Linked DNA regions of Homo sapiens: region 1 is linked to region 2. Evidence: fine-mapped QTL for protein levels in blood plasma. A gene starts in region 2. The other region holds a variant in brackets. All regions are shown on one strand. Distances are between the middles of the regions.

Evidence for each region. PIP is the chance, under the fine-mapping model, that this variant and not a neighbour inherited with it causes the effect. The UK Biobank Pharma Proteomics Project read protein levels with antibody pairs (Olink). The fine-mapping took linkage between variants from a reference panel, not from the people measured, so its PIPs are less certain.
Region 1: its variant is fine-mapped to the plasma level of the SELPLG protein (UK Biobank, PIP above 0.99).

What each region holds. Positions count from the first base shown.
Region 1 is chr12:108,609,979-108,621,499 of GRCh38, reverse strand. No RefSeq gene overlaps it. Among named protein-coding and RNA genes, the nearest start is that of TMEM119, 18 kb to the right of the region's middle. RefSeq lists enhancers at 3,119-3,168, 3,749-4,208 and a silencer at 11,213-11,507. The variant G/A (reference allele first, on the strand shown) is at 2,582.
Region 2 is chr12:108,629,080-108,640,701 of GRCh38, reverse strand. SELPLG (selectin P ligand) reads left to right here and starts at 6,808. Exons shown (of 2, transcript NM_003006.4): 1 at 6,808-6,962. MIR4496 (microRNA 4496) reads right to left here and starts at 4,892; the gene lies at 4,832-4,892. LOC105369968 (a long non-coding RNA gene) reads right to left here. Exons shown (of 3, transcript XR_007063449.1): 2 at 4,465-6,371; 3 at 1-4,307. RefSeq lists a silencer at 5,997-6,046 and enhancers at 7,287-7,336, 8,745-8,894.

The DNA of each region.
Region 1 (11,521 bases), 19 kb after region 2:
ATTTTGCAGTGGGGGCATTTGGGCTCAACTATGAGTACAGCAGGGGCAAGTGGGAGCTGATAGCCAGGGAACAGGGTTGGATATCTGCAGCTGGAAAATTACCAAGAGGAAACATCAGGGGAAGGGGAATTCTGGCTAAACTGACTGCTGGGGATGGGTTCTCGGTCATTTTCTACACTGACCTAACAGGATTCATACTGGAGGCAGGCCAGGGTGCTCAGACATCACCGGGGGGATGGTGGCAGATGAGGAACGTGATCAGATATAGGAGGTGATCAGATATGGGAGGTGATCAGATATGGAGTGGTGGGGGGAGGGTTGTTGCTAAGCTGACTTAGCAGAGTTCTTGTTAGAACTGGATTTTATTTATTTATTTATTTTGAGATGGAGTTTTGCTCTTGTTGCCCAGGCTGGAGTGCAATGGCGCGATCTGGCTCACTGCAACCTCCGCCTCCTGAGTTCAAGTGATTCTCCTGCCTCAGCCTCCTGAGTAGCTGGGATTACAGGCATGCGCCACCACGCCCAGCTAATTTTGTATTTTTAGTAGAGATGGTGTTTCTCTATGTTGGTCAGGCTGGTCTTGAACTCCCGACCTCAGGTGATTCTCCCGCCTTGGCCTCCCAAAGTGCTGGGATTACAGGTGTGAGCCACCACGCCCGGCCCAGAACTGGATTTTAAAAGGAAGTGCACAGATGGGCCTAGGAGAGGACTCAGGGGCCTGACTGATTAAAGCTTGGCCAAGCACAGAATCTTTCCCACTCTCCAGAAGCTCACCCTGACCTCTCCTTTTCACTCAGGCCCTGTCTCTCATTAACAGCCAGTAGCTTATTGGTGATCCTAGATGCAGCCTGCAACCTTTTGTACAACTCACAGAAGCACTGATTTGCTGTCAAATGGTGGAAAAGTTCAAGCTGCCAAACTTTTTCTTAAAGGACCAAACAGTGAATACTGTAGGCCTTAACTGTTGCAACACCATAGCCTCTGTTGCAACAACTCAACTCTGTCCTTGTAGTACAAAAGCAGCCACTGACAATATGTCCATAAATGAATGCGCATGGTTGTGTTCTAATAAAACTTTATTTACAAACGGGCGGCAGGCTCATTTCAGCTCCGTCAGTTTGCTGACGCCTGATTTTAAGCATAGGGTGACCAGTCGTCCCAGTTTGCCCGGAACTTTCTTGATTTTAGCACTGAAAGTCCCATATTCCGTGAAACTCAGCCCCAGTAAACCAGGTTGGCCCTGCTATTTAAGCAACACTTGCATTATCCCATTCAAAACTCACACTACCTTGTGGGGGTCAGGTCACCGCCCAGTGGATCCACCTTGCCTGCTGCCTAGACAGAGCCGATTTATCAAGACAGGGGAATTGCAAGGGAGACAGAGTAATTCATGCAGAGCAGGCTGTACAGGAGACGGGGATCAGAGTTTTTAACGACAATTTGGCGGGTAAGGACTTGGGAAGTTGGGAGTGCTGATTGGTCAGGTTGGAGATACAGTCATAGGGGGTTGCAGTGAGGTTTTCTTCATGTCTTCTGTTCCCGGCTGCGATGGCAGAACTGGTTGAGCCAGAATACCAGCCTAGGTGGTGTCAACTGATCCATCCAGTGCGGGGTCTGCAAAATATCTCACGTAGTGCTCTGAGGTTTTACAATACTGATGTTATCCACAGGAGCAATTTGGGGAGGCTTAGACTCTTGGAGCCAGAGGCTGCATGACCCCTAAACCATAATTTCGAATCTTGTAGCTAATTTGTTAGTCCTGCAAAGGCAGATCGGTCCCCAGGCAAGAAGGGGGTCTTTTCGGGGGGAAGGGATATTATTAATTTTGTTTCAGAGTCAAAACACGAACTGAATTATTTCCCAAAGTTAGTTCAGCCTAACTTTGGGGAAGGAATGAACAAGGACAGCTTAAAGGCTAGAAGCAAGATGGAGTCTGTTCGGTCTGGTCTCTTCCACTGTCATCATTTCCTCAGTTATAATTTTTGCAAAGGCAGTTTCAGTCAGATTAGAAAACCAGGATTTGGAGAGTTCTTGCTCTTCTGCTCCCAAATACCTTCCAGTCATTTCCATAGAGAGAGAAAGAAGCTGCCGCTTAAACAGACTCTGTTCTACCTTCTAGGAGAGGAATAAAAGTCATCTCAGGGGATAGTCTTTATTTTTCTTCTTGAAAAATACCTCCGGCTGGGTGTGGTGGTTCACGCCTGTAATCCCAGCACTTTGGGAGACCGAGGCAGGAGGACGGCTTGAGCTCAGGAATTTGAGATCAGCCTGGGCAACATGGTGAAACCCCGTCTCTACAAAAAATACAAAAATTAGCCAGGTGCAGTGATGTGCGCCTGTAGTCCCAGCTACTCAGGAGGCTGAAGTGGGAGAATCACTTGAGCCTGGGAGGTAGAAGTTGCAGTGAGCCAAGGTCATGCCATTGCACTCCAGCCTTGGCAACAGCAGTGAAAAGCTGTCTCAAAAAAAAAAAAAAAAAAAAAGAAAAGAAAAGAAAAGGAAAAAGAAAAAAAATACCTTCAATGGCCTCTTTGGAAGTGAAGGACTTCTTTCCTTGCCCCCAATGGTTTATCCCGGAAAA[G/A]GGGAGTTCACAGAGAAGGTTGAGTCTGGCAGGGGTTGGCTGTGGCTTGGGAGAGAGGGGTTGGAGGAAAGAGACAAGGGAAAGGTAGGAAAGAGCCGTCAGGGGGAAAGGCCATGGGACAGCATCGGGGAGGAGTGGGGAGAGGGCCCACACATATTGGAAATGCAGTGTCTGTCTCCTCCCCTGAACTTCTGGAAGGATCAAATCTGATACACACAGGCAGGTGTGTTCAAAGTGTCCTGGGGGTGCTGATGGAAGAAGGTGGGAGTGTCTGCCATGGGCTGGGTCAGTTAACACCCGGGGTCGGCAGGCTGATGGGTCAGGAGAGACTGAGTCTACCTCCCCTTTGGGAGGGATCAGAAAAATCAGAGAAGGGGAGCTGAAGGCTCCACAGCAGGGGGCTGTGGACTCAGGCTGAAGGACCTCTGAGTTGTTCCCCAGGGATCTTGTCACCTCGTCTTCCTGGGAGCTTTCCCCTATTTCCTGACAGCTCCTGAGGATGCTGTGTAACCACAGATTTCCATTTGCGTTGGAAGAGGGCCACCTTCCCTTTACAGTTTTCTCTCTCTCCAAGGTGTGGGATTTCATTCAGGGTGGGCGAAGCCGGGTGCTTGAAGCGGCCACCAGGGGGCGCCCGCCGCCAGCTCTTAGAGCAGGTGGAAGCCTGCGTTTCCCTTGGGCCAGACTTGGAGATCATTTAGCCAGGAAGGAGCCCCAAAGCCAGTGGCGTGCTGTTAAGTGTTTAACAACTGGCTTCCAATGGGAAAAAGTCCTGATTTGTAGCATTTGCCAATGTCTTCCATGTAAATACTCCCACAGCCGATTTTGAGCTACCAACCATTATATAGTTGATGATACAATAGGTGTTAGTAACAAGGGCATCGATCATCGGATAATGTAGTACAATTATTAGGAATTGGTGAGTTTTGAGTACTGATGACCTTGGCTTTTAATATAATAGAATTTAATTTATTAAACAACTGACACAAAATTCTGAAAATTTTGTTGATTAGCTCTCACGGGCAGATATAGTCTGGCTCCTGCACACCCCTGTGCCCTCCCCTCCTGCCTGGGCCTCCCATGCCCTTGAGGACCACCAGCCTGAATCACCCCACTCATCCATTCAGCAAACACATCCTGAACACACACACAGCTGCAATATCCCCGTGAATCCCCTCAAACAGCTCTCACAGACGGTTCTAGTATTCTCCCCATTTTACAGAAGATGAAACTGAGGATGAGAGCTAGGTGAAGTCACCTGCCCCAGGTCATGAAGAGGATCTGAGATTGGAACCCAGACCTGAAAGCCAGGATCTTACCACTGTGTCACGCTGTCCTTGAGATCACAGCGGGGTTCTGGGGGAATCCCACGCCCCAAAACCTCAGCCCTGCTGACCTGCCCTGGGGCCTGGAAGTCCCCCATTAGTCACCCTCTGTGGCTCCTGGCTGCTGAGGGAAGGCGCTGTTCCTTGGGAGGGTAACCGAGTACAGCGCAGCCCTCTCATTGCAGAGAACACAACACAGCAGAGCTGGGGCCTAGGACTAAGAGGGATGGCCGGGGGCAAGCAGCTGGCCTTTACTGAGCACTTACTGCATACCTAGTGCCTTGTCAAACAGTTTGTCTGCATTATCTCATTTAGGACTCAACCTCATAATGTGGGTGCAATGATTGTTCCATTTTCTTGCCAGGGAAACCGAGGTTCAGAAAGCTGAACCACTTGCTCCAGCCGGTTGCACGGTTAGGAAACCACACTGTGCTGACTTCAGCTCTGCCAGCAGGGAAGGAAGGAGGGTAGACAGGAAATGGGGGGCGGGGGATGATGGGCTCAGTTTGTTCCAGGTCCCTTGTCTCTTACAGGCTGGGGCTGCCACCCTGGGGGTGGTTCATCCAGCAGCTGATCTGGCAGGGGCTCCCCAAATTCTTTCCCCAGATCCCATCCCTCTTTGCCACTCAACCAAGCCACCGATTACTATGGAATGTGCCAGGCACTGTGAGAGGCCCTGGGATGCCATGTGAGTAGGACAGGCCTGTAATCCCAGAACTGTGGAAGGCCAAGGTGGGCGGATAACTTGAGGCCAGGAGTTCGAGACCCCTTTGGGGCTCATGGTCTAGAGGGGGACAGATTGATCAAATAATCACCCAGGAAAAGATCAGATTATGTCAGATTATGGCTGGGCCCTGAGCCCAGAGGAGAGATGCTGGGAGCAATGGGGCCAGAGCTGGGGGGCATGGGTCAGGAAAATCATGGTTGAAACTTGAAGGACACAGAGTTATTGACTTGGGAGGGAAGGGATAGAGGGAAGAAAGTTCCAGGCAGTGGGAGCATCATGGGCACAGGAGTTTGCACTAGGGGAGCAGACAAGGTGGGGGCAGCTGGAAGGAGCCAGGGTGGCCGCATGGAGGAGGAAGAGGCTGTGTGAGGATGAGGAGAACCTGGACTAGAGCAGGGTGCAAAGAAGTTGTGGAATCGAGAGGTAATTGGGAAGAAAAGGGTAGGAGTTGCTGATGGGTTGGAAGTGAGGAAAAAGGAGGTTGAAATCTCAGGTTTCTGACTTGGGCAGCTATCCTGATGAGGGTGCCACGGGGTGGCTGGGAAAGCCATGGAAGGAGGTTGCAGGGCTGGTGGTAAGAGGAGTGTCCTGAGCTGGGGTTCAGCCAAGTTGGGTCTCAGGGCCTGCTCAACCTCCAGGTGGAGGTTCCAGGAAAGCTGTTGCAAAAGATGCTTGAGGTCATTAGCCATCAGGGAAATGCAAATTAAAGCCACAGTCAGATGCCACTTCACACCCTCCAGCAGGACTAGAATTAGAAAGACTGACAACACCCAGTGCTGGTGAGGATGTGGAGAAGCTAGAACACTCACATGTTGCTGGTGGGAATGCAAAATGATACAGCCACTTTGGAAACCAGTTGGGCAGTTTCTTATAAAGTTAGACGTGTACTCACCATGTACTCCCCATCCAAGCCAGAAATCCCATTCTTAGGTATCTCCCCAAGAGAATGAAAACAGATGTTCATACAAAGACTGCTACAAATGTGTACAGCAGCTTTGTTCATAAGATCCCCAAACTGAAAACAACCCAAATATCCATCAGCTGGTGAATGGATAAATAAACTGTGGTCCATCTGTGCAAGGAAATATTACTCTGAATAAACAGGAGTGAGGCACTGATTCTCATGCCAACATGGATGAATCTCAAAGACACCATGCTGACTGAAAGAAGCTAGACACAAAAGGCTATATATTTTTTTCTTTTTAGAGACAGGGTCCCACTCTGTCACCCAGGCTGGAGTGCAGTGGCGCCATCATAACTCACTGCAGCCTTGACCTACCAAGCTCCAGCGATCCTCCTGCCTCAGCTTCCTGAGTAGCTAAGACTGCAGGTGTGCACCACCATGCCAGGCTAATTACTTATTTTTTTGTAGAGATGGGGGTCTTGCTATGTTGCCCAACCCAGGCTGGTCTCAAACTCCTGGCTCAACTGATCCTCCTGCCTCGGCCTCCCAAAGTGTTGGGGTTACAGGCGTGAGCCACAGTGACATACAATCTGGCTGGGCTGTATGTTGTGTGATTCCAATGATAAGAAGTTCTGGAAAAGATCAGTGGTTACTCTTGGGGGTGGGAAATGATTAGCAGCGGCTTGCAGGAACCCTCTGGTATGATGGAAACATGTTTTATTTTGGTCTGGTTGGTTGTCATACGGGTGTCTGCATTTGCCAAAACTCACTGAACTGCATTTTTACAATTGGTGCTTTTTACTGTGTGTAAAATATACCCCAAGAAGCAAGCAAACCAATAAGCAAGCAGGCAAGCAGGTGAATTCACAAGGCTGTGTGAACCCAGAGGTCGGCCAAGGCATGTGTGAGAGCAGGGGGCCTTGGGCATGCTCCTTGGAGCTCCCACAGCTGCTGTCCCTGCCCCTCCCAGGGACTGGGTGACGGGGAGGCCCAAGGAAGCCACATCTTTTGAGGTCCCCTGTGAATGTCCTTACCTTCTGCGGCTGTTCCCCTGCTCAGAGACTATCAATGGCTCCCCAGTGCCCAAGTCCACAAGAAGTTTCCAGCTTCCTCACTCGCTGCCCACTCACCTATATGTCTGCCTGTCTGGGCAAACCGGCCCTCTCACTCCTCCTCACCCATGCCCCACGGCTCCTGCCCTCTCTGCCTTTTGTTTCCACTTTTAGGGCTCAGCTCCCCCAGGCCCTGGAGATCTTTTTGGATCCAGCCATGTCTCTGGGCTCCTCCTTTGCTCACCCCCATCACCCTACTTGCTGCGGGGCAGTATTTCACCCCGTCTTTGCCCCAGTCCTGGGCACAGAGACCAGCTTGGTTGGCCAACAGTTAACTCCAGGTTATTCCTCCTCCATCTGGGGCCTCAATCTTTCCATGTGTAGAATGGGCGTCTCTGTGTCTGCTTATGCCATCAAGTGGCCACTGCTTATGTGTCCTTCCCACTCAGATAAGAGTCACACAAGGCAGGGATTTTTCATTCCCCAGAAGACTTGGGAAGGAGACAGAAGTCAGTCTGATGCCTGGTTCTGTCTTTGCCATGTGTCTCTCCAAGGCTCACAGTCCTCATCTGTAACATGGGATGCTCATAGGGCCCGGGGCACTGTAAACAATTACCCTTGACAATAGCAGAAGTCGACCTACCCTGTGAGGTTAGGTCTTATTCTCAACCCCATTTTATGGATGAGCAAATGGAGGCCCAGAGAGGTTCAGTGACTTGCCTAAGGCCACACAGCATGAAAAATCACAGATTCGGGAGTAAACTCCTAAGACTTTCTGGGGCCACCAGCCACCAAAGGCTGGCTCCTTGAGAAGGGGCTGGGAAGTCCCCAAATCTCCAAATCTCCAATTCTCCAAGCCAGGTCCTGGCGTGACTTCTCATCAGCCACAGAGCTCCTCTCTGGAGGCCACTCTGTGCTCACAGCATCCCCAACTGGGAGAGGGGGTCACTGGGAGGCAGTCACTGGGCACTGCCCATTCACGAAGCCTCTACAGAGCTGGGTGCCGGGGAGGAGGTGGTGCCAAAGATTGCTGAGGGAGCAGAGGGGGCTGCGTCCTTCCACCACCCCTGGACTCACTCTATGAGACCTTGGGCATGCCACCGCCTTCTCAGGCCCCGATTTCTCCTTCTATGAGATGGGAGACGTCTGTATTAGTTCCCCGCTGGAGGGACAGCTTCAAGGAGCCAGAAGCAGAACTGGGGGGAATTCCCAAGGCTGTGTGAGCCCAGAGGTCTGCCAAGGCGTGTGTGAGGGCAGAGGGCCTTGGGCATGCTCCTTGGAGCTTCCACAGCTGCTGTCCCTGCCCCTCCCAGGGACTGAGTGACCGGGAAGCCCAAGGAAGCCACACCTCCTGGAAGTCCCCTGTGAATGTCCTTACCTTCTGTGGCTGTTCCCCTGCTCAGAGACTATCAATGGCTCCCCCAAATAAGACAAGTTTCTATCATATTACAGGGTCCCTGCAAGTCCCTCCAAATCATTCCCTCCCCACCAAGGGTAACCACTGGTCTTTTCCAGAACTTATCATCGGAATCACACAATATAACATACAGCCTGGCCAGATTGTATGTTACCGTGGCTCACGCTTGTGACTCCAACACTGTGGGAAGCTGAGGCGTGAGGATCACTTGAGCCAGGAGTTCGAAACCAGCCTGGGTTGGGCAACATAGCGAGACCCCATCTCTACAAATTTAAGTAATTAGCCTGGCATGGTGGCGCACACCTGCAGTCCCAGGTACTCAGGAAGCTGAGGTGGGAGGATCCCTTGATCCTGGTAGGTCAAGGCTGCAGTGAGTTATGATTGCACCACCGCACTCCAGCCTGGCCTGCAGAGTGCAGGTGAATGAACCTGGTTGATGTAATGGGTACTGCCCTGAGAGAGGCCTCCCACCAGGCAGCAGAAGGCTGCAGCTTGGGAGAGAGGGAAAACCTGGAGGCAGGACTGTGAGAACGTCTGCCCAGAGGCGGGACCTGCAGCTGTGGGGAGAGGTGGCATTCCTCAGAAAAGGATGTGAGCCTTTGCCGATATGACACCTCTTGGTAATGGCAAAGATGTTCTCACACCCCACGTGATGGGATATTTTTTATATCCACTGGGAGAGAAACCAGGTAATGACAAACAGCTCCTGTGTGAACAACTTTTTTTTTTTTTTTTTTTTGAGACACAGTCACGCTCTATCTCCCAGGCTGGAGTGCAGTGGCACAATCTCAGCTCACTGCAACCTCTGCCTCCTGGGTCCAAGCGATTCTCATGCCTCAGCCTCCCAAGTAGCTGGGATTACAGGTGTGCACCACCATACCCAGCTAATTTTTTGTATTTTTAGTAGAGATGGGGTTTCGCCATGTTGATCAGCTTGGTCTGGAACTCCTGGCCTCAAGTGATCCGCCCCACCTCGGCCTCCCAGAGTGCTGGGATTACAGGCATGAGCCACTGGTGAACAACTCTTTCTAATGTCTTTCACTGACGTAGCCCAACTGCCTCTAGAGACAGTCGACAAAAGATCAAACCTCTGTGTTTGAGGTGTCGTGTGAATTAGGGTCGAAACATGGTTAGCCTTGAGGACTTTTGTGGTGATCATGCTGTACCGCCCCCTGGGGGCAGAAGTGGACAGAGACCTGATTGCTGAGCATTTAGGGGCACAAGGTCTCTCGACCCCTCACTCATGCACTCGCCCACACAGTCCCTGGGCATAAAATGCTGTGTGCTTGTGGGAAGGAATTGTGACTCATCTTTGCCCTCAGCCTCTAGTGTGATCCTAGCCCAGAGTAGGTGACTCAGAAATGTTTGTGGAATATTCCAGCAACTTGGAAGAGGTAAAGAAAATAAGGCAGCCCCAGGTGTATGATCAATCAAACATGATTCAGCAATTGAAAATGATGTTTTTGAAGGATAATATGGAAAAATGCCCTTGACATGATGTTAAATGAACTCTGAGCCTTAGTTTTTTCATCTGTGAAATGGGATAATAATAGTATCATCTTGCAGGGGTGTTGTGGGGATTTAATGAGACTGGCATGGAAAGTACTTAGCATGATGCCTTGCAGAAAGTAAGTCCTCCGTAAATAGTCGCTAGAAGGTTAAGTCCTCCATAAATCGTGGCTATAAGGTAAGTCCTCCATAAATCGTGGCTATAAGGTAAGTCCTCCATAAATCGTGGCTAGTAGGATTATCAAGTATGAAGAAAACATGACCAGAAGGAAATATACCAAATTATTGAGAGAGGTTAGTCACTGAGGGTAGGATTTTGGGTGAGCTTAATTTGCTTCTTTCAACTTTTCTGTGTTTTCCTAATATTCCCAAATGGACAGAAAGAAACCCAAAGTGTTAGGAAATCTAGTGGCCCCAGGCTTTATCCTTTAGTTATTAATGCCCAAACAGGAGTGCTCTGAGCTAGTGGTTCTTCCCCGGGGATGATTTTGCTCCCTAGGGGACATTTGGCCATGTCTGGAGACGTGTTTGGTTGTCACGATCGTGGGCATCTGGTGGGTGGTGGTCAGGGATGCTGCTCGACATCCCACAGTGCACAGGACAGCCCCCCACAGCACAGAAGTCCAAAAGTGCCGTGGTAGAGAAACCCAGCTCTGTGGCTTCCCCTTCGGCAGTGTGGGATTCCCAGAACCCCCCTTCCCAAAGATTTCTGGAAACCCAGAGATGCTTCTGTGTCATCATGAACATGGTTGTTGTGCATCCCTTGGTGGCTGGAGGGCTGCAGTGGTTGCTGCCTCTTTTCTAGCACACACACAGGGCCCCCCAGAACTGGGCACACCTATGCCCAAGGTTGGCAGAACCAGAACGCCACGCCGAGATGTGCGTCGGGACAGCCTTATTGCTGCTCCTGCCAAGAAAAAAGGAGAAAGGAAAGGGCCCCATGGCAGGGAGACCTAAGCACAAAAGTGGCACAAGCACAGCCCCTTTCACAGGCACAGGGACCCTGCCAGGGTGGCCGAGTGAGGGTGAGTTCTCACAACGGTGGTCAGTCTCAGCCCTGGTTCTGAGATGCCCACTACTCCCTTGAGGTAGCTCTTTCTGGAGTCCCTGTTATCTGGCTTTGTGCCCGACCTCCAAGCCCCTGAGAGGGAGAGGCTTCAACTGATTTTCCTGAGAGGTTCAGTAGCCCCTCCGCAAATTTCTGGATACAAACAAATGCGTGGGCTAGCAGGATTGTCTGATCCTATCAGCAGAAGCTTCTGGGCCCTGACTCCTGCCCAGCTCAGATGCCATCTCATCTGTTGACAGTCATCTAGCTTGGACGGGTGAAGAAAAGCTCCCGTCACCTCCCACTCTGCACCGGCTCCACGAGCTCTCTTGCTCTTTTTCAGGTAGTGCTGCCTCAGGGCCTTTGCCCTTGCTGTTTCTTCTGCCTGGGGCCCTGTTCCCAGATATCTGCACAGCTGGCATCTTCTCATCCTGTAGGCCTCAGCTTGGATGTCACCTTCTCAGAGAGGCCCACTCTGCAGCCCTGCCCCCAGATATTCACTAGGACACCCCCTTTTCCTTTCAAGGCACTGGTGACGGTCAGAGTGATGTTGATAGATTGATTTGCGCTGCCTGTGGGTGGGGCCTGTGTCCCTCATGTCCACTCTCTCCCTGTCCCTGCCTGGTGCCTGGCACATGGTAGAGAATCAGGAAACATGTGAATAAAGGGACTAGCAAGGGAGGCTTTGCAGAGGGCGTAGGGGCTGAGGCGAGGCAATGGGACCGACAAAATTTAAGCAGCAGGGGCAGAGAGCAGGGGGGCCTTAGGTTTAAGGCTTGGAGTCAGGCGACCCTGGTTCAAATCCTGGCTCCACTGCTTAGGAGTTGCATGACCTTGGGCAACTTGCTGACCTCTGGCAGCCTCCCTTCCTCACCTAGGAAATGGGGAGAAGCATCCTTCCTACTCCTAGGGATTTGGAAGGGTGGAGTGAGCGTGGACAGCCTGGCACACAGTCGGT
Region 2 (11,622 bases):
AGGCAGGAGTAATTCCTTTTTTTTTTTTTTTTTTTTTTTGAGATGGAGTCTCTCACTCTGTCGCCCAGGCTGGAATGCAGTGGCACGATCTTGGCTAACTGCAGCCTCCACCCCCTGGGTTCAAGCAGTTCTCCTGCCTCAGCCTCCCAAGTAGCTGGGACTACAGGCATGCGCCACCACGCCTGGCTAATTTTTGTATTTTTAGTAGAGATGGGGTTTCCCCATGTTGGCCAGGCTGGTCTTAAACTCCTGACCTCAGGTGATCCTCCCACCTCGGCCTCCCAAAGTGCTAGAATTACAGGCATGAGCCACACGCCTGCAAGGAATTCCTTATTACTCAGCCTTTTTGTTCTATTCAGGCCCTCAACTGAATGGATCCACCCACCCACACCAGAGAGAGCAACCTGCTTTACTCAACCCACAGATTCAAATGTTCATTTCATCCAGAAAACCCTCACAGACACACCCAGGGTAACGCGTGACCAGATATTTGGGCACGCCATTGCCCAGTCAAGTTGACAAGGTTAACAGTCACAGCTTCCTAACCCAGCTTCCCCCACCCACTTGAATCTGTTCTCAGAGCTGCAGCCATAGTCACCTTTTCAGGTATCAAGGTGGGGGAAGACATGCTAAGGCCCATGGGCTAACTCCAACCTGCCGGAAGCTTCTGTGTAGCCCACAAGCTAAGAAGGCTTTTTACATTTTTAAATGGTTGGGGGAAAAAACAATATTTAGTGACAAGTAAAAATGATATGAAATTCAAATTTCAGTGTCCATCAGTAAAGCTTATTGGAACACACTGTGCCTTGTCTGTGGCTGCTTTTGCTCTATACTTGAAGAGTTGAGTAGCTGCAACAGAGATCGTATGGCCACAAAGCCTAAAATATTTACTGTGTAGCCCTTTAAGAAAAAGCTCATTGACCCCTGTGTCTAAGGCTTCAAACCCTCCATGGTTTCCCATCCCACTCAGAATAAAAACTAAATCCTCACCACTGGCTTAGGAGGCCCCGTGTTGCCTGCCCTGCCGCCCCTCATCCTCTCCTGATGTTCTCTTGTGTTCAGGAGGCCTTCTACCCCTGAGCTTCGCAGGTGCTGTTCTCTCGGGAGTGCCCATCCTTTCCCCACCTCCAGTGTCTGCCCTTCCCAGCACTTCACCTGACCCCCATATGTAAATAGTGCCCGTAGCACCTTAGTAGCACTGATAGCTGATCTATCATCTCATTGGAGTTTTGAGTGTCTTCCCTGAATTGAATATAAGCCGCATGAGGACAGGCACTGGTTTCCTTCACCAGGATCCCCAGAATCTGGCATGATGTGCCAATCAGTACTTACTGAAAGACTGAATAGTTGAAAATGTAGACATTATCTGGGATGGGAGCACATATTGCATTATCCGCCCAGCGGTACTTTGCTCACAGAATAAGACTGTCCCGGAGCACAGTCAACTCCAGGTGACCTATGAGCCCCTTGGAGCCACCATCAGTGGCATCAGATCTGGGTTTTCCTTTATGGGGGCCTGGGAGTTGGGGAAGCCAGGGACCACGCAGGCAGAGCAGATACACAGTGATGAAGAAAGGGCTTCTGGGTCCCTGTAGCTCCCCGAGTCCATGCCTAAGGTCCAGCTTTATTTCTGATCTTAAATTCCACAAAATATCCCAGGACTCCTATTGCCAGGCCCCTGGCCTCCTCAAACAACACCAAGGTCTCTCCCCTAAAGACCCCTTCCCAGGGGTCTTTGAGGCCAGGTGATTGAGGATGTCTGCCAGAGGCATGGATTCCTTCAGCCACTACCCTCTGGGGAAGAATCACGGAGTCTGGAGTACATTTCTAACATTTGTTTGCCCTCTGGCCTTCCAGGTCTGGGACCAGCAGCGCTGGCTACCCCCAGCCCAAGCAGACCCAGTGAGCTGGGGAGCCCCTGTTTTCTTCCACTCTGGAGGAATGGCTTCATGCTGCAGTCTCCAGCCCAGAAACTGGTTCCTAGTGCCGCCCAGATTGGCAGCGAAAATCTGGGGCCGAAAGTGAACTCCCCAGAGCTCTGTTCCCATTTGAGAAAGGGAATTGAATCCTGGCTGGAGCAGGCCCACAGTGGACCATTTCCCCTTTGGATGATTCAAATCAGCAAGCTGTAGCCCGTGAGCCCCCCTAGCAGCAGGGGAACGGGGGAGGGCAGGCAGCTGGGCGTGACTTCCCCTCCTCCCTTCTGGGCCTTGCTTGCGAGCAGCTCTGTTCTTATTCTATTTCATGAGACCGTTGCTTTCATTCGAACAAAAGGTCCCATTGTGAGTAAACTGAAAAGACCACTGCCCTGAGAAACAAGCGGCACAACCAGCAAGACTCTTGCTTTCCTCGGAGGAAGGAACAGGCTTTTAATGGGCTTTGCAGTCTGGCTGGGCTCCGGTCCGCCTGTGCCCTCCTGCGCCACCAGGGAGCCTCAGTTTCCTTGGAGGGACAGTGACCACTGGCAAGGGAGGTGGGATTCTATAAGCGACGTCACCCCTGTTTTCCCCATTTTTAGGGAAGCGGACACAGGTTTGCATAGGAAGCCAGCACCTGGTCGGGGAGGGATAACAGTTCCTGACAAGTTACACATAGATTATAAAATCTCAGGCTATACCTGGCCTGTCAGTTATAGTCCTTGCCTAGCCACATATGTTCAGGATTCCACAAATGTTTAATTTTTCATTTTCTTTAATAACTGTACTGTTGACCAACCTAAGCTTGGTAAATACCAGGCTGAAGCTAAGTTGCGCTGGCTTTTGGCACCCAAGCCTCCAAGCCTTCCTCTCTTTGTCTCTATAATATGAGGCTTTATTACAGCTGTGCTTGTCACTGGTGGGAACAGTTCCCCACCCCGAAACAACAAAGAAGCAAAACGCAATTAAATAGACCACTGCACACATGCAGCTGTACAGGCTGTGGTGTTGCCTCTGGGGACTGGGGACCACCATGAGGCTGCAGGCATTTTCATCCATCAGCGAATGGAAGGAAGACTGAATTTAGTGCACGGATGATCATTTAAGTATAAAGAGGTTATAGGTTGTTTGTTTGAATACCAAATCTCTAGTTGCTCAGGATCCACTTGTAAGAGAGCTCCAAGTAGGGGCCCAATGAGCCATGTTTTTGCTTTAACATGGGGCTGTTCCAACAGTAGCAGGCAGTTAGTTACAACCAGGAGCACATTTTTCTCAGAAGACCCATAAACAGCTCTTGCTTCCTAGGCTAGCCCACTACTGGGCTCCAGTGTAGAGAGGAACCTAACACCCACTGGCTTTGCTGATTGCAATTCCTGCTCCACACCCCAAGCAGGCTCACACGGTGTTGCGAGGAGGTGGGGAGAACTGGGTCCTCTTAGACCAATCACAGCAGGCAAGGTCTGCAAGGAGGAGCTGGAATCACTTATATATTGAACCAATATTTATTGTGATTGAATGCAGGCTCTTTCATAGGACACCCTAGGTTCAGACTCTGGCTTTGCCACTTACTAGCTCTGTGACCTTAGGCGAGTTTCTTAACCTCTCTGGAACATTTTTTTTAATCTACAAAATGGGGATACTAATAGTACCTACCTCATGAGGCAGTTGTAACAATTAAACAAAGTAGTAGACCAGGCATGATGGCTCATGCCTGTAATCCCAGCACCTTGGGAGGTGGAGGCCGGTGGATCACTTGAGGCCAGGAGCTTGAGACTAGCCTGGCCAACATGGCAAAACCCCGTCTCTACTAAAAATACAAAAACTAGCAGGCCATGGTAGTGAGCACCTGTAATCTCAGCTACTAGGAAGGCCGAGGCAGGAGAATCACTTGAACCCAGGAGGCAGAGGTTTCAGTGAGCTGAGATCGTGCCACTGCACTCCAGCCTGGGCGACAGAGTGAGACTCTGTCTCAAAAAAAAAAAAAAAAAAAAAAAAAAAAAGAAAAAAAAGTAAAATAGACATCATTATATACATTTTTTCTATATACAAATATAGAAAAGAAAATATATTTAAAAGGAAAGGGGCATTAATAATTATGCCACCCAGAGATAGGCACCGTCAGCATTTCTTTCAGTCTGTCCTCTCAGCATGCAAGCACACTTGAATTATGCTGTTTATATACTTCTGTGCCCTCTCTTTTCTACCTAACAGGTCTTGAGTGCTTTATAAGCATTCAGTATAAATATAACTTTCATGCCTGCGTCACATTCCATCAAGGGACAGGTTTCTGTAGTAGGGGAGTCTGTGTTTTTTCCCAATATTTCTCTCACCTCAGATATCATTGCTTCAATCTTGGAAGGCAACTTGGAGTATTTTTCTTGGGCTTCATTCCTAGAAGCAGAAACATATTCACTTTGAGTCTTTGACTCTCACAGATGTCAGGTGCGGTGAAGTGTGGTTTTATGGTCTTCACACAGACGACATACACCAGATTTATCTTAGCAATATTTGCTCCTCTGAGAAGGAAATTTCACTGCTCAAGTCTCACCTTGAAATAGATTACTTGGAGCTGGGCGTGGTGGTGTGCTCCTGTAACAGCTACTGGGGAGGCTGAGGCAGGAGGATTGCTTGCTTGAGACCAGGAGTTTGAGGCTGCAGTGAGCTATGACCACGCCACTGCACTCCAGATTAGGCCACAGAGCAAGACCCTATTACACACACACAGAAGAAATAGCTTACCTGCTGCTAAGCTACTCCTTTTTCCTTACATATAGTAATTGCTGATGTGCTGGAGCTCACCGTTCAGCCTGCACCATCCCAGGCTAGGGGTTAAGATCAAGAACATTATTTCATGTGCCTGGACTTGAGTCCTGGCTCTGCCATTACTCTGTGTGCCCTTGAGCAAGGCACATTCTCCCTCTCAGCTTCAGTTTCCTCATTTCTAAAGGCAGCTTCGAGGATTATATGAGCTGATGTATGCAAAGCACCTACCACAGGGTCTGGCATTGACCACAGGCTCAGGAAACGTTAAGCGTTTGTGTTGTGAGGCTTTGCAGGTGATGAAACTATTCAACTCTGCCGCTGCAACGTGAAAGCAGCCAGAGACAATATGTTTACACCAATTAGTGTGGCTGTGTCCCAAGAAAACTTTATGAAAACGGAATCTCGAATTTCGCACAGTTTTTATGCATCACAAAACATTTTCCAACCACTTAAAAATGTAACCACCATTCTTAGCTCACAAGCTGCACAAAACCACGTGGCAGGCTGGATGTGACAGACAGCTTGCAACCACTCACCTCCGCTAATCAGAGAGTGACCTGCAGGCAGTCTTGGGTGTGTTTAGAGTTTCTCAGTCCCCTGTCCCTGAAGGATGGCTATTTCCAAACCTGCTGGGGAAGGGTGAGGGGCCTGGGTTCTAGGGGTCTCACTTCCCCTCTTGTGGCTTCAGTTTCCCTGTCCGTGCCGGCAGGGTGAGCTTTTGGCTGTTTCCAGCTGCAGCTTCTTAAGGTGGCTGAGACTGTGTCATGGCGAACACCTGCTGGGTCTCTGGTTTTCATTTTAAAACAACCTGTGTGCGGCTGGGCACGGTGGCTCACGCCTGTAATCCCAGCACTTTGGGAGGCCGAGGCAGGTGGATCACCTGAGGTCGAGAGTTCAAGACCAACCAGCCTGACAAACGTGGAGAAACCCCATCTCTACTATAAATACAAAATTAGCCGGGGTGGTGGCACATGCCTGTAATCCCAGATACTCGGGAGGCTGAGGCAGAAGAATAGCTTGAACCCGGGAGGCGGAGGTTGCGGTGAGCCGAGATTGTGCCATTGCACTCCAGCCTGGGCAAAAAGAGTGAAACTCCATCTCAAAAAAAAAAAAAAAAAACAACTTTGTGCAAGGCAAGATATGAGTATCTTTCTGTGCATGTCCTGAGCCCTTGCCTGGTGCAAAGCCGCAGGGCAGATCCTGGGAGACCCCCCTATTCCCTCCCTTCTGGAAGTGTCTGGGTATTCTTAGGCCTCCCAGCCTTTGCCTCTGCTGTGCTCTCTGCCTGGGATGCCCACCTGGCTTGTCATCTCAAGTGCCACTTCTTGGAAGCTCCTCCTGTTAACCTCCCTCCCCCACCCAGGATGGAAGGAGAGGCCCCTCCCTTGCTCACCGCAGGATGGCACTCACTGCGCTGTGTCATTGTGGCATGATGTTCCACCGAATTGTTTACTCGCTGGCCTCCCCATTGGATGGAGGGCTACCAGAGGGCCACAGCCCAGAATTGCTGGCCTTTAGACCTCAGGGCATGCAGTCTGGAGTGCCAGAGTTGGTCAAATGAACAAATTTAGGATGAAGAAATAAGATAAGCAGGACTTGCCCTTGTGGTATCTGTAGTCCAGCTCCCTAGAGAGGCTCTTGGTTGCAGCTGAAAGGGCCTGTGCTGTGCATCTACAGAGAGTGTTTTGAGTCCTGCGAGAAGAAATACACCATATTTGCAAACCCTTTGAAGGTTCATATTTTGTGTTTTTTGCTCCCTGACCACCTCCCACCCCTCCCCACGCCCCACCAATCTTGGGCAAGAAGCGAGACCATTCTCCTTTTTCTCTGGTCACTCCTGTCCTTCAGGGGGCTCCCTCTGGCCCCGACTGTCCATTGCTGCTGAAGTAATGCTGTGGCCTTTCTCAGTTTGGGCCCCACCCAAAACCGAAGAACTTCTCCCCAGAAAGCTTCTACTTGGTTCTCAGTGTTTTCACAGTTATGGGAACCCAAGAACAGTGTCAGACCTAGGAGGTGCCCCACTACCACCCTGTCTTTATCAATGTTGTCACCAAAGCTGTCACAAACAATGGGGTGTGGGCTGTCACATGGCCCTGCCTAAGTAACCACATTCTCGCTTCCTCCTTCCACACACAGCCATTGGGGGTTGCTCGGATCCGGGACTGCCGCAGGGGGTGCCACAGCAGTGCCTGGCAGCGTGGGCTGGGACCTTGTCACTAAAGCAGAGAAGCCACTTCTTCTGGGCCCACGAGGCAGCTGTCCCATGCTCTGCTGAGCACGGTGGTAAGTGCTGGCTTGCAAAACCACAGGGAGTGGCTGGAGGTCCCCATGGGCCAAGGGCCTGCCTTATAGCTGCTGGCAGGCCCGGGTAGGACCGCCAGGCCCTTCTTGAGCTGCAGCACCTGGGGAGGGCAAACTGAGGCTCCTCCGACTCAAGACTAAAGTCTTCCTGGAGTCTGTGGCCTTATTCTGTGACTCTTCTGAATCCTGCTCCTGCCAACTTTTTTTTTCCTTCTTTTTTTGAGACAGGGTCTTACTCTGTCACCCAGGCTGGAGTGCAGTGGCACAATCATGGCTCACTGCAGCCTTAAACTCCTGGGCACAAGTGATCCTCCCACCTCAGCCTCCTGAGTAGCTGGGACTACAGGCGCACATCGCCGCATGCAGCTAATATTTTTACCTTTCCTAGAGATGGGGTCTCACTTTGATGCCGAGGCTGGTCTCAAACTCCTGGCCTCAAGCCTCTTGCGTTGGCCTCCCAAAGTGCTGAAATTACAGGTGTGACCCACCAGCCCCAGCCTCCCATTAACTTACTTCCCTCCCTGGCCAGTTTGCCTGCAGCGTCTGGCTTGGCGGCATTCTGATTTTGAAAATCAGAGAAACCATGAGTGTTTCCCTAGAAATGATCTTATCCTCTCCTTTCCTGGATGGGAAACTGAGGTCGGGAGAGGTGAAGGGATTTGTTTAGGGGCAGAGCTGAGATTAGGTCTGGAAGACTCCAGAAAGTAGGGGGAGTGCAGGATTTCTCTTGAAGCTGCATGTTATGGACGCATAAAAAAGTTCTTTTCAGAGAAAGATGCATTCTTCCCACTTTTTATAAGACTGAGGAAATGACACTTGTCTGTGGCAAACTATTAAAATATTAGAATTAAGATACTATTGTTAGCAAAAGGGAAAACAATAATAATAATAATAATTAGAATATTTGGCTGGGTGCAGTGGCTTACACCTGTAATCCCAGCCCTTTGGGAGGCCGAGGCAGGTGGTTGGCCTGAGCTCAGGAGTTCTAGACCAACCTGGGCAACATGGTGAAACCTCGTCTCTACCAAAAATACAAAAACTTAGCTAGGTGTAGTGGTGTATGCCTGTGGTCTCAGCTACTTGGGAGGCTGAGGTGGGAGGATCACTTGAACCTGGGAGGGGGAGGTCGCAGTAAGCCGAGATTGTGCCACTGCACTCCAACCCGGGTGGCAGAGTGAGACCCTGTCTCAAAAAAAAAAAAATTAGAATACTCTTATTAGTTTGTATTTGAGATACTTTCAGGACACTAAAAGGAAATGGTGGGGGCCAGTTGTGCCCTGCTGTACACACATTCACACACACACACACACACACACACACACACACACACACCCCATATTGTCGATATCTGGGCTTCTGTTGCCTGGAATTCTCTTCCTCTTTCCTCTTTCTTCTGTTTTCCTTTTTTTTCCATCTCTGACTTTGAGGCCCCCAGAGCCAGGCCCCTCAGTGGGCCGGGGCCTCAGAAGGTGGCTCCCAGGCCCTCAGACAGCCCCAGAGTCTCTTCCGAGGCCGTGCCCTGGGTGGTTGATGCCTCCCTCAGCAGGCTTGGCCAGCAGCCAGGGGAGTTAAACCTCAGAGAGCGGAAGGGCTGGGTTGCTAGGCTGGGCCCAGAGTGGGGCATTCAGAGGAGCTGGGGAATCAATCATCCGAGAACCTTGGAGGGTGGACAGTGCCCCTTTTACAGATGAGAAAACTGAGGCTTGAAGGGGAGAAGCAGCTGCCTCTGGCGGCATGGCTTCTGGCTGCAGGATGCCCATGGAGTTCGTGGTGACCCTAGGCCTGTGTCTCGGCTTCCTTTGCTGAACTTGAACAGGAAGATGGCAGTGGGGGCCAGTGGTCTAGAAGGAGATAAGATGGCTGGTGTGTGTGTGTTGGGGGTCTGTGTTTGTTAATCTGTCTGTCTACACAGGGGTGTTTAGAAAACTGTTTAAAGACAGTTGTTCAACTAACCAGATGTAGGTCTCATTGAATTCATTTGTGCCAAGTACCTTACTGCCTCTGGATCAGGCCAGCAAGTTTGGGTTCCAACAGGTGTAACTTGGTTCTTGGTGGGGTGGAGGGTAGGGAGGGGGGTGTAACAAAAAAATCTCAACTAACACTGTGGTTTGCAAGCCACCAAACATTAAACAGATATACAGCATATCTGTGCTATTAACTTTTCATGAGGAGGGCTGGTCACCGTGGCTCATGCCTATAAATCCCAGCACTTTGGGAGGCTGAAGCAGATGGATTGCTTGAGCCCAGGAGTTTGAGACCAACCTGGGCAACATGGGGAAAACCCATCTCTACAAAAAATTTAAAAGTAGCCGGGTCTGGTGGCATGCACCTGTAGTCCTAGCTACTTGGGAGGATCGCTTGAGCCCAGGAGTTCAAGCCTGCAGTGAGCTATGATTGCACCACTGTAGTCGAGCCTGGGCAACAGAGAAAGACCCTATCTCTAAAATTAAATAAATAAATAAACCTTTCATAAGGGCGATGATAAGTGGGAAAAAATGTCTACAGAGACTCCCTGATGTGAGTTGAGGTAGATGACGGAAAGAGGTTGCAAAGTGTCAGCTGGCAAATGTGGTGTGAAAAGTGTGAAGACAGCACGTGCTGTGCAGTTCTGTGCACGTTCCCCTGCCTCAGTCACATGTCCTCTTCTGCAGAGGCATTTAGTGAGGCCCCTGGGGATGCCAGGAGACCCAGGAGAGCTCCTGCCCTCCAAAAACTTGTGGTCTGGTGGGGGCAGCAGAGCAGACAGCCACAGTGGTTGCCAGCCACTGGGGCGAGTGTTGCGAGGGGTGTGTGCCTGCCCATCGGCTGAATCCTGGGCCTGTGGCCTGATCAGCAAGACAGCTGTGGTTCCTGCCTTCTGGAAGTTTAGGAGTCAATGTGAATACATTTTTAGAAAATAAATGAACAGCAGAAATGATTTAAACACGGGAGGTGACTAATCGTGCCTGGGGCAATCTGGAAAGGCTTCTGGGAGGACTCAGCATTTCCCTGGCCCTCTTCAACCCACAACAACCCCATAAAAAGCGGGTGCTACCATTGTCCTTGTATTCCAGCTAAGGAACCCACAGCTCAGAGAGGTGAGGTGAGTTGCCCCAGGTCACACAGCTTCTAAGGGACAGAGCTGGGGATTGACCTGGTTTGATGTGACTCCCAGGGCACAGCAGGGCAGGGCAGGGCCTGTCCTGTCTACCCAGACTTAGATCTGCTGCCTGTGCCTCAGTTATCTGGGGTCTTTCCTTCTCTTGGTGACTACTTGACCCAAACCCTGAGATGCTCAGTCTTTTGAATTTTAGCATTCCAAGATCCTGCCCGCTCTGACCACCAGTTTCAGGATTCTCAGTGCAAGGTTCCTAGCGGCGTGGAGCCCCACGAGGATCTTTCCTGAGCAGCTCAGGGCGGCCACACGGCGGGTTCTCTGGAGCTGGAGTCTGGGCCCCCTGCAGCCTGCTCCTCCACACAGCCTAGATGGGGCCCATATGGGGTCTAGATGGGGCCTGGGCCAGAAGCAGCCTGGTTTTAGGGCGAAAGAGGCAAACGAGCAGTCTCTGACCTACTCTGTTAGGCAAGTGTTGAGACAAATAGGACGTGGTCACTGGAGACGCCTCTGTCGGAGCCCTGCCCTGGCCCCACTTCTGTGGGACTGTTTTTTGGCCTTCCAGGAAGAGGAGAGGTGGAAGGTGGGGCCTGGGAGTGATCCCGCCGCTCCGGGCCTTGCTTGCTAATCAGTGTGATGGCACCGTTAGAGCCAGTGAACACAGGGGTGAGGAGGAATGAGGTCACCAGATAGTGAGAGGATGAAATCATCCCTCCGTGGGAGGGGCTTCCACATATGTCATTTTTATTGTTGTATAATACATTTACTGTAGCAAATATTAAGGAGGTATTATGCTACCTGCCATACACGGTGAGAAAACTCAGCTCCTCCCCCTTCTACCTGTGTGGCCTCAGCTGAGACAAGATCTCTCAGAGCCTCGGGTTTTCTTTTCTTTCATTAAAAAAAATATGTTTTTTTCTTAGAGACAGGGTCTTACTCTGTCACCCAGGCTGGAGTGCAGTGGTGCGATCATAGCTCACTGCAGCCTTGACCTGGGCTCAAGCCATCCTCTGGCCTCAGCCTCCCGAGTAGCTGGGACTACAGGCATCACCAGCATACCTGGCTAATTTTTAATTTTTTTGTAGATATGGGTCTCAGTATGTTGCCCAGGCTGGTCTTGAACCCCTGCCTTCAAGTCATCCTCCTGCCTTGGCCTCCCAAAGTGCTAGGAGTACAAGCTCGAGGCACCGTGCCTGGCTGAGCCTCAGATTTTCTTTCTGTTAGATGGGCTGATGCCTGCTCAGCTGTGGCCTGGCTCCAGGCTGCTGTGTCTTAAAGCCAGTGGGATGGCAGGGACCAGGCTGGGGTGACCAACAACCCCCCACCCCCAGTTTGCCTGGGAGTGAGGGGTTTCTGGGGTTGAGGGACTTTCAGCACTGACACCAGGAACATGTAGGATAAGGTGGTTGCTTTAGACGGGCCCAGGAAAGGAGGTCTGGGCTTTCCGAATGTACCAGGTCTTATCATAACAGGTACGGAGGTCTCTGCTTTCTCAAAGCCCAAACACCCACAGGGGAGGTAGAGAGGCCGCCATCTCCATACCCTCTG